Homo sapiens: one gene and its partner. The protein of the gene in region 1 purifies or fractionates together with the protein of each later gene. This does not show direct contact. Each region holds a gene or a part of one and is shown on either strand. Other genes may lie near its edges.

The links.
Region 2: the proteins of KCNE3 (region 1) and YES1 purify together in Homo sapiens (co-immunoprecipitation; 2 studies listed by BioGRID and IntAct, with this or other methods). This does not show direct contact.

What each region holds. Positions count from the first base shown.
Region 1 is NC_000011.10:74,460,116-74,465,423, forward strand, and holds part of KCNE3 (potassium voltage-gated channel subfamily E member 3), read right to left. Parts: exon of another isoform or gene 4,147-5,308; intron 2,741-4,146; exon of another isoform or gene 2,567-2,740; intron 2,018-2,566; exon of another isoform or gene 1,989-2,017; 5' UTR 1,840-1,988; intron 1-1,839. UniProt on the Homo sapiens protein: Ancillary protein that functions as a regulatory subunit of the voltage-gated potassium (Kv) channel complex composed of pore-forming and potassium-conducting alpha subunits and of regulatory beta subunits.
Region 2 is NC_000018.10:731,250-735,758, forward strand, and holds part of YES1 (tyrosine-protein kinase Yes), read right to left. Parts: intron 1,717-4,509; coding exon 1,585-1,716; intron 1-1,584. UniProt on the Homo sapiens protein: Non-receptor protein tyrosine kinase that is involved in the regulation of cell growth and survival, apoptosis, cell-cell adhesion, cytoskeleton remodeling, and differentiation.

The DNA of each region.
Region 1 (5,308 bases):
ACTGGGCAGCATTTCATGCAAGGCCTTTGGGGCCTTCTGACATCTAGTACTTGTGCTGCCTTGTCTGGATGGAGGAGGGGAAAAGAACAAGAGCTCACTGAGTTAAGATCCAGGAGATACACGTTCTCATCTACTACCCCATGTGTCAGGCAAGAACTCTGTGGCTGCTGCTTCCCTCGTGTGGGCCAATAGCAAGTAGGAGCAGCATGATGAAATAAATAACTCAAAAAATAATCTAGATAGTTATCACCAATATGGGCCACACCCTGTGATGGGAGTTCGGGGTGGCTCAGATCCAGTGCCTTCGCCCAGGGGCTCTGATACAATGCAGGGGACAAGCAAAGAGCTACTAAGGCTGAAAGGAATAAGTGATGGATACTGATCAGGGCTCAGAGAGTGTCCACAGTGATGGAGGCATTTGAGTTGGACCTTGAAGGGTTTTTAAGAGGCAGAAAAGATGAAGGAAACATGAGCAAAGGCAGAACAAGAAAGTGTGTAAATGTTTAGAAGAATGGAAAGTAGCATAAAGAGGTTGGAGTGTAAGATGTGTGGAAGAATAGTGTAGGATGTGGGGCAGGAGAGAGAGGATCCAGATCATGGGGGGCCTTGAGTGCCACGCTGTAGAGTTGGAACTTTATTCTGTAGCTAGGGAAAAGCCATGGAATGGTATCTTAAAAGAAGATAAAATGGTCAGATCTGTGCCTGGAAAGGATACTCTGGCTGTCATGTGGACTGGAGGGAGCTGGAATTGAGGCAGTGAGCCCAGCTACCAGAGTCTTGAAATAGTTTAGTGTAAGATGCTGAGTCATGAATTGGGGCAGAGAGGATAACAAAGTAGGGAAGTGGGGGTAGAGACAGTCGTAAGACCTGAGGAGGAAATGGCTAAGTGAGGGTTGAAGGAGGAAGGGGCCTCAGGCAATTTCATAGGTAGACAACAAACAAACAGTGTAAGTGTCTTGATGAGCCTACTCTGAAGGAAATAAGTTCCTTTCCCTGGGTGGGCTTTGGTTTCCTCATCTACCAAAAGACATTATCATGGAGTTGTTGTATGGTAGGTATAGAGTTTCAATTTTACAAGATGAGGAGATTCTGGGGATCTGCTGCACAACAAGGTGAATCTAGTTAACACTACTGAGTGTACACTCAAGAATGACTAAGATGGTATATTTTTATGTTTTGTGTGTGTGTGTGTGTGTGTGTGTGTGTGTGTTTTAAGCACAATTTTAAAAAATAGGCCAGCTGTGGTGCCTCACTCCTTTAATCCCGGTACTTTGGGAGGCTGAGGCCAGTGGGTCACCTGAGGTCAGGAGTTCGAGACCAGCCTGGCCAACGTGGAGAAACCCCGTCTCTACTAAAAATACAAAAATTAGCCGGGTACACGCCTGTATTCCCAGCTGCTCAGGAGGCTGAGGCAGGAGAACCGCTTGAACTCAGGAGGTGGAAGTTGCAGTGAGCCGAGATCACACCACTGCACTCCAGCCTGGGCAGGAAAGCAAGACCTCTGTCTCAAAAAACAAACAAACAAACAAACAAAAAACCCCACAAAGAAAGATGATCATCCTTTCCCTCCTCCTTCAAGGCTTGCTATGAGCATATACTTGTATTATGTAGAAGAGGATTAAAAACTTTTTTTTTATTTTCAAGAAGCAAATATGTACACATAGGTTTAAAAAAAAAAAAAAAGAATGGACGCAGCACATACAGTGAAGGTGAAAGCTCCTAGTCGTCCCAAGCTCCATCCCAGGGCAGGGCAGTTACCATTCAGTTTTCTTAGGTATCATTGGAAAGGGGTTTTAACTGACAGGGAGAGGGAGGGAAATCTCAATCTGGAAGACTCACCAGACTGCTGGCAAATCCACTGGCTCTCAGTCAGTTTCAGGAGTCCCTTTGTGGACACACTAAGGCTCCTCCACCCCCGAGCCTCTTCAGGATGTCTCTGGACACATCTGGGATCTCAGTATTGACTTCGGAGCTGGGAAAGCCCAGAGCTAGAAAGCAGGAGAGAAGGCAGAAAAGGAAGGAACCAGACACAAAGCACAAACTTCAGAACCAGGGTGGATTGCCCAAGGCCAGGCCCCAAGGATTATGCAACAGTCCTGCTGTGGGCTCTGACCCCCTCCCATGGCCCCTCCCCTTCCTGCAGCAGCTGGGTCAGGCCAGCCTAGGGTTGCAGTTAAAGGAACTGTGCAGTGACCAAAGGGCCTCTGATTGCTGTCCCCTACCTCCAGACTTACAGTGTCTTCACTGGGTGACTTCATGAGAAACCTGTTTAAAATGTGGACTCCCACTCAGGGACCAGCTGATGGTGCAGCCTAAAACATTCCCTTTCCTAAGGGTTACCTTAGCAAGGTCCTTTTCGAATCCCAAGGGAATTGACATGAGTGGGAGAATGCCAACTGGCAGCTGGGTTGATATTTTACATAGGAACAAATGATGTGTTACCACCCAATCTATTCAGATAGACAGGATATGAACACGGTCACAGAATGAACACTATCTGTAGCATAGCTTTGTTGTGAAAATTAAAGAACATCATGTAGTGCTTGGCACTAGACACTGCACATACGGTGGTTGTTTTTGTAGAGCAAGGCTGGAAGGGCCTTCAGAGCCCATCTAGGCTATATGCCCTCACTTTACGGTGAAGGAAATGGAAACCAGGGGAGTTGTCCCAGCTCAGCTGCTCCTTGTGTGACTTTGGACATAAGACTTCCCTTTTCTGGGCCTCAGCTTCTGTCCGCATCTGTAAAATGAAGGGGTCTCAGTTGGTTCTAACGTCCTGTGATGATACGAATCATGAAACCATGCTGTGAGACCATGGGAAGTTGGAGAGGCTGATGGGAGAGGCATTTTGGGGGCTTTCTAGAGCTTCTCAAATCCCAAGATAGAGAAGGCTGTGGACCTCTTCCTCACAGGTTAAGATGCTTCTGAGCCCTGGGACTGACTGACATCTAATATCCCAGTCGAGCCAAACTGAGAGATTTACTCATTTTTCCTCTTCACAGCTCACCTGCCAGGATGATCTAGCCTGAGGAGGGGATAGACTCTGCAGAAGGTGGGGGAAGGGGACAGTGTGGAGGGTAGGGTGGGCTTTGAGGCAGGGTTCCATGAGGGGAATAAAGATTCATGAGACCTTTCATGCCTCAGGGTCTCTCTGAATAGACTAGGATGTTTGTGCTTCTGACAGGAGGAGGAAAGGGGCCATAGTTCCACATCTCTAGGTGCTGGGTTTGTATGGGAGGGAAGGCTGGGGTGCCAGGGCCTCCTGTCTGCGTTAGGAGAGGCAGAAAGCTGATGAAGGCACAAGTTGGTTCTCTATGGGGCTCTGGGGCTGCCTCTGGGGCTCAAGCTGGGGACTGGCAGTCAGCAACAGGGGAGTTTTGCCACTGTTTCTGAGCTCCTTGGCTTCCCTGTCCAGGAGAGTCCCTGATTACTGAGATCCTTGGATGGGGGAGATGGAGCTCCTGCCCTGGAGAGGTCTTGCCTTGAAATAGAAGATAGGCCAGTGAGGAAGGAAGGTGAGCAGATGGCCAAGCTGAGAGGGACTTTAAGGATCATCTAGAATCTAGATTCCAGGCCAACCCCTCCATTTCGTAGATGAGGAAACTGAGGCTCAGAAGGGAGAAGTGACTAGTCCAAAATGACATGGCCCATAAATGGCAGCACTCAGACAAGAACCCAGGTGTTTGGGCTACTGTTCAGGTGCTCTTTCCACTACAAATGGCAGTGTTTCCTCACACCTAAGCTTCACATCACACCAGACACAGCCTGTTAGTGTCATGGGGCATCATCTCCTCTAACTTCGTCACTATGGCCTTTTCATGCACCACAGATTCTCGCCAATCTTAGTCAATGATCCAGTGAGATGGAGGTTGGTAAGCTTGGGAGGAGGAGTTAGACTTCGTTTATGCTCTCATCTTCCATGCACCCCACTGCTCCAGACCTACTCCTGATTCCCCAGATGAGCCAGGTTCACTCTCTGTTCCTGCTATTTCCCATACATTCACAGGTTCTCACAAACTGCACTTGCCTTACACTTGTCCAACCCCTAACTTGGAAGTTGGGGAATAAAGCTGTGATCTGAGGGATGAACTGGGGATCTTAGTGGGGTTTTCATTCAGGTTGCTCTGGGGAAAAGTGAAACTCTACCCTTGGGTCTTTCTTTCCCGTCACTCCGTTTCAGCTACTCTTTCAGAATGAGCGTCTTCAGTGTCTGGAAATGAAGTACAGAGAGGTAGGTAGAAAAAGTCACATAAAGCAGGTAGGTGATCCAAAGACAGTTCCTGGGGTGCACAGTTTTACCACTGTCCCCTTGGTGGTCTTACCACTCCTGTGGATTGGAGAGCTGGTGGAGTGGGAGAGGAGTTGAAGGAGTAGCCCTTAGCATCCAGTTGGAAGGACAAAGGAATAGAATCTGAGCTGGAAGAGATCTTCATGATCATGTTGTTGGTGCAACCCCCTCATTCAACCAGTGGGAAAATAGACCCTCCTCCCCAAGGGAATCACCTGCTTAAGGTCTCACAGCTCAGTAGTGGCAGAGTTGGAGCCAGAAACCAAGTATCTTGACTTCCCCTCCACAGACCTTTCCACTATAAGTTCCCTTCTGCCAGTAGGGCAGACTCTAAACTCTTCTGATTACCACTGAAGCTCCTTGAAATGTGACTCTGACACTGGCCTCATCTCCCCACAGCTCTTTTCAGTGGCCTGCACCCATGACACTGAAGTACAGGCCACTCTCCAAATATTCCTTGCACTTGCACATCTCTTGCCTTTGCTCATGCTGTTTTCTTAAACAAGAATGCCCTTCCTCTTTTTACCTGCCTGGCAAACTCCTACTCATCCTTCAAGACCCAACTCCAATTCATCTCTGCAGACCTTCTCCTGGGACTCCTCCTTCCTCACTCCCTAGCCAGTTAGTCTCTCCCTCTTGTTTTTTCCCAAAAGTGCTTTGCACGAAGGCTTATTAGAGCACTATACTGTACTGAAACTCTGTGTGTGTGTGTGTGTGTGTGTATGTGTGTGTGTGTATGTGTATGTGTGTAACTGTGCGCTTTAAGGTAAGAGGGCAGGGTCCTGTGCCTCATACATTTCTTTATTTCCCAGCCCTGATACCTAGCAGGCATTCAAGAATAAATGAATCAATGCCTCTTCTCTAAGAGCATTCCCCCGCTCTGGCACACGCACATACATTCATGAAAACAGTTTACAATATTTAAAAAGCAACCTCCAGGGCAGGGCAAAACAGATTTCATTTGGTCTGGGGAAGGGATGGCTCAAAGAAAAGAAGCCATCTCAGTCAGGTGGGGTGAGT
Region 2 (4,509 bases), on another chromosome or scaffold:
CAGGAGAAGAGTTCAAGCTACAAGAGACCAGGGTAATAGAAGAATCATCACCATGTGTATTAAGATGACAATGAGTTAAGACAGGAGAGGAGTTTTGTTGGAGAGGACAATGGTGAGTCATTAAATGAGAATAACTTGAATGGTATCAGTGAATAACAGCAACCAGACAAAGTGGGTGATAAAATTTGATGGCATTAGATCTACAGCTGGAGGGAACTGTAGGGAAGAGGAATATGTTAGATAACATGCAAAACCCATAAGATTAGCAAAACAGTTTTTCCTAAAGATTAAATTTTATATGCTTTCACTCTCAACATTAGGATACTTCAGTACAAGAGTTTAGAAGTAACAAACTAAAGTAATACTGATCGCTGAATTTCAAGTGAGCTAAAATTTCTCCTTCCCCCTAGAAACTATATAAATCTCTTAATTTTGAGGCCAGGCACGGTGGCTCACGCCTGTAATCCCAGCATTCTGGGAGGCCGAGGCGGGCAGATCACAAGGTCAGGAGATCGAGACCATCCTGGTTAACACGGTGAAACCCCGTCTCTACTAAAAATACAAAAAATTAGCTGGGCGTGGTGGCGGGTGCCTATAGTCCTAGCTACTCGGGAGGCTGAGGCAGGAGAATGGCGTGAAGCTGGGAGGTGGAGGCTGCAGTGAGCTGAGATCGTGCCACTGCACTCCAGCCTGGGCGACAGAGCGAGACTCCATTTCAAAAAAAAAAAAAAAAAAAAAGTCTCTTAATTTTGAAAGGGAAACACTTTCATTTTTCCTCTTTATTAATGGCAGATATATTTATTAAAGTGCTGGTTTATAAATAGGTTAGAGAAATAAAACAAGAAAAGAATCTCAAAATAATCTACTGAAGAAAACAAGGCAAGTACATATTTAAAAAAATATACCATGATGGGCACGGTGGCTCACGCCTGTAATCCCAGCACTTTGGGAGGCCTAGGCAGGTGGATCACCTGAGGTCAGGAGTTCGAGACCAGCTTAGCCAACATGGCAAAACCCCATCTCTACTAAAAATACAAAAAATTAGCTGGGTGTGGTGGTGGGTGCCTGTAATCCCAGCTACTTGGGAGGCTGAGGCAGGAGAATTGCTTGAACCCGGGAGACAGGTTGCAGTGAGCCAGACTGTACCACTGCACTCCAGCCTGGGTGACAGAGCAAGACTGTGTTTAAAAAAAAAAAAAAAAAAAAAACAAAACACCAATCACACTACTGGGAAAGAACAGTTATTTAGGGTATAGGGTGGATGAGCCAGGATATTTAAGATATGTTTATTATCTGAGAGAACAGTAAGAGGCCCCTTTGGAAAATGTCCTGAGAAAGCTGAGGTGAATGTGGGGCCTATCTCATGTGCTCACCCTGTCAAGGATCGTGGCTTTCACTGACTTACCCGTCCAATGCCACAGTTACCCATCCAATGCCACAGTAAAGGGAAGGAGTGGGGAGAGGGAGAGGCAGGGGGACTATGAGAAGAAATAAAGGCCTTTTCCCCGCTTACAATTCTGTTCCTAATAAACTCCTGATAAAGCCACTCATGAGATAACCAAGAGCTATAAAATGCAAGCTTACCTGGATATGGCACTCGGCCCTTTGTTACTAGTTCTGTTTGCAGAATTCCAAATGACCAGACATCAGACTTTATTGTAAACCGACCATACAGTGCAGCTTCAGGAGCTGTCCATTTGATTGGAAATTTTGCACCTAAAATAATGTTGACCATCTTGCTTAATTGTTTTTTAAAAATCTATTTGTGTAAACATAGCATATGCAGGGCTAATGTTCTGTCAATATCTCTACTGTAGTCATCAGTGTCAATTCTTTAAATGTACAAGATACATGGGATAAAAATTCTTTAATTTTTAAAATTCATATTGAAATAAATCACATTTCTTCCTGATTAGACAGCTGATGATATAAAAAATAAGTTGGCTGTGGGAACAGAAAACAATTTAAGAAAATAGAGGTTGAAGCTCTAGTAAGCCAAAGATACATGTTATAATATGTGTAACTTTTAAGTACAGTCTGGCACCTAATAGCTGTAGTTAACTATTGGTTGATGAGTGAATATTCTATTGAGTTATAATGTTTATGGGTTTTCCTACTTTTTATATCATTCTGGAAAATTTTATTGTACTACTTTTAAAAGTCCATGTTAATTAACTCAAATACTTACTGTATATCTTTTTTGTGGAGGGCATTATGCTAATCACTATGGAAACCTAAAAAGCATGGCTTTCGGCCGGGCGCGGTGGCTCAAGCCTGTAATCCCAGCATTTTGGGAGGCCGAGGTGAGTGGATCATGAGGTCAGGAGATTGAGACCATCCTGGCTAACATGGTGAAACCCCGTCTCTACCAAAAATACAAAAAATTAGCTGGGCGAGGTGGCAGGAGCCTGTAGTCCCAGCTACTCGGGAGGCTGAGGCAGGAGAATGGTGTGAACCCAGGAGGCGGAGCTTGCAGTGAGCTGAGATTGCGCCACTGCACTCCAGCCTGGGCAACAGAGTGAGACTCCGTCTCAAAAAAAAAAAAAAAAAAAAAAAAAAAAGCATGGCTTTCATGAAGTTTATAAACTTATTGCAGAAATAATATTATAGGTGTCTTACATTCTTTAAGTTATTTATATGTGTTTGTAGATAGTGTTTTAAAACAGAGTTCTTTAGATATTTAGACAAACAGATGATCAATTTTCCTTGGCACCATTACAAAATGTTTTATTTAAAAAGTGGCAGGTGGTTGGGCACAGTGGCTCACGCCTATAATCCCAGCAATTTGAGAGGCCGAGGTGGGCAGATCACCTAAGGTCAGGAGTTCAAGACCAGCCTGGCCAACACGGTGAAACCCTGTCTGTACCAAAAATACAAAACTTAGCCAGGTGTGGTGGTGCATGCCTGTAATCCCAGCTACTCGGGAGGCTGAGGCAGGAGAATTGCTTGAACCTGGGGGGCAGAGGTTGCAGTGAGCCAAGATCATGCCACTTCACTCCAGTCTGGGCAAAAAAGCAAAACTTGGCCAGGCGCGGTGGCTCACGCCTGTATTCCCAGCACTTTGGGAGGCCGAGGTGGGCGGATCATGAGGTCAGGAGATTGAGACCATCCTGGCTAATACGGTAAAACCCCGTCACTACTAAAAATACAAAAAAAAAAATTAGCCGAGCTTGGTGGCAGGCACCTGTAGTCCCAGCTACTCGGGAGGCTTAGGCAGAATGGCGAGAACCCGGGAGGCAGAGCTTGCAGTGAGCCAAGATCGCGCCACTGCACTCCAGCCTGGGTGACAGAGTGAGACTCCATCTCAAAAACAAAACAAAACAAAAAAAACCAGGAGCAACTACAACATACAACATCACTAATCATCAGGGAAATGCAAATTAAAACTACAGTGAGACACTACCTTACTCCTGTAAGAATGGCCATAATGAATAAGTAAAAAAAAAAAACAATAGATGTTGGTGTGGATGTGGTGAAAAGGGAACATTTTTCCACTGATGGTGGGAATGTAAATTAGTACAACCACTATGGAAAACAGTATGGAAACTCCTTAAAGAACGAAAAGCAGAACTACCATTCAATCCAGCAAACCCACTACTGGGTATCTTCCCAAAGGAAATGAAATCAGCCAGGTGTGGTGGCTCACGCCTGTAATCCCAGCGCTTTGGGAAGCCAAGGCGTGTGGATCACCTGAGGTCAGGAGTTTGAGACCAGCGTGGCCAACATGGTGAAACCGTGTCTCTACTAAAATACAAAAATTAGCCGGGCCTGGTGGCAGGTGCCTGTAATCCCAGCTACAGGGGAGGCTGAGGCAGGAGAATCATTTGAACCTGGGAGGTGGAGGTTGCAGTGAGCTGAGATTGTACCACTGCACTCCAGCCTGGGCAACAGATTGAGACTGTGTCTCAAAGCAAAAAAAAAAAAATCATTATATGAAAAAGATACATCCACAAATGTTTATAGCAGCACAATTCGCAATTGCAGATATGGAGCCAATCTAAATGACCATTGACCAATGAGTGGATAAAAAAAAATGTGGCATATATACACCATGGTATACTACTCAGCCGTAAAAAGGAATGAAATAATGTCTTTTGCAGAAACTTAGAGCTAGAGGCCATTATTCTAAGTGAAGTAACTCAGGGATGGAAAACCAAATATTGTATGGTCTCACTTAAAAGTGGGGCTAAGCTATGAGGACACAAAGGCATAAGAGTAATATAATGGACTTTGGGGAGTAAGGGGGAAAGGTTGGGGGGTGGATAAAAGACTACATGTTGGAGGTGAAACCCCGTCTCTACTGAAAATACAAAAATTAGCTGGGTGTGGTGGTACGAGCCTGTAATCCCAGCTACTCGGGAGGCTGGGGCAGGAGAATCGCTTGAATCTGGGAGGCGGAAGTTGCAGTGAGCCGAGATCGTGCCGCTACACTCCAGCCTGGGCTGGGCAACAGAGTGAGACTCCGTCTCAAAAAAACAAACAAAAAAACCTACATATTGGGTACAGTGC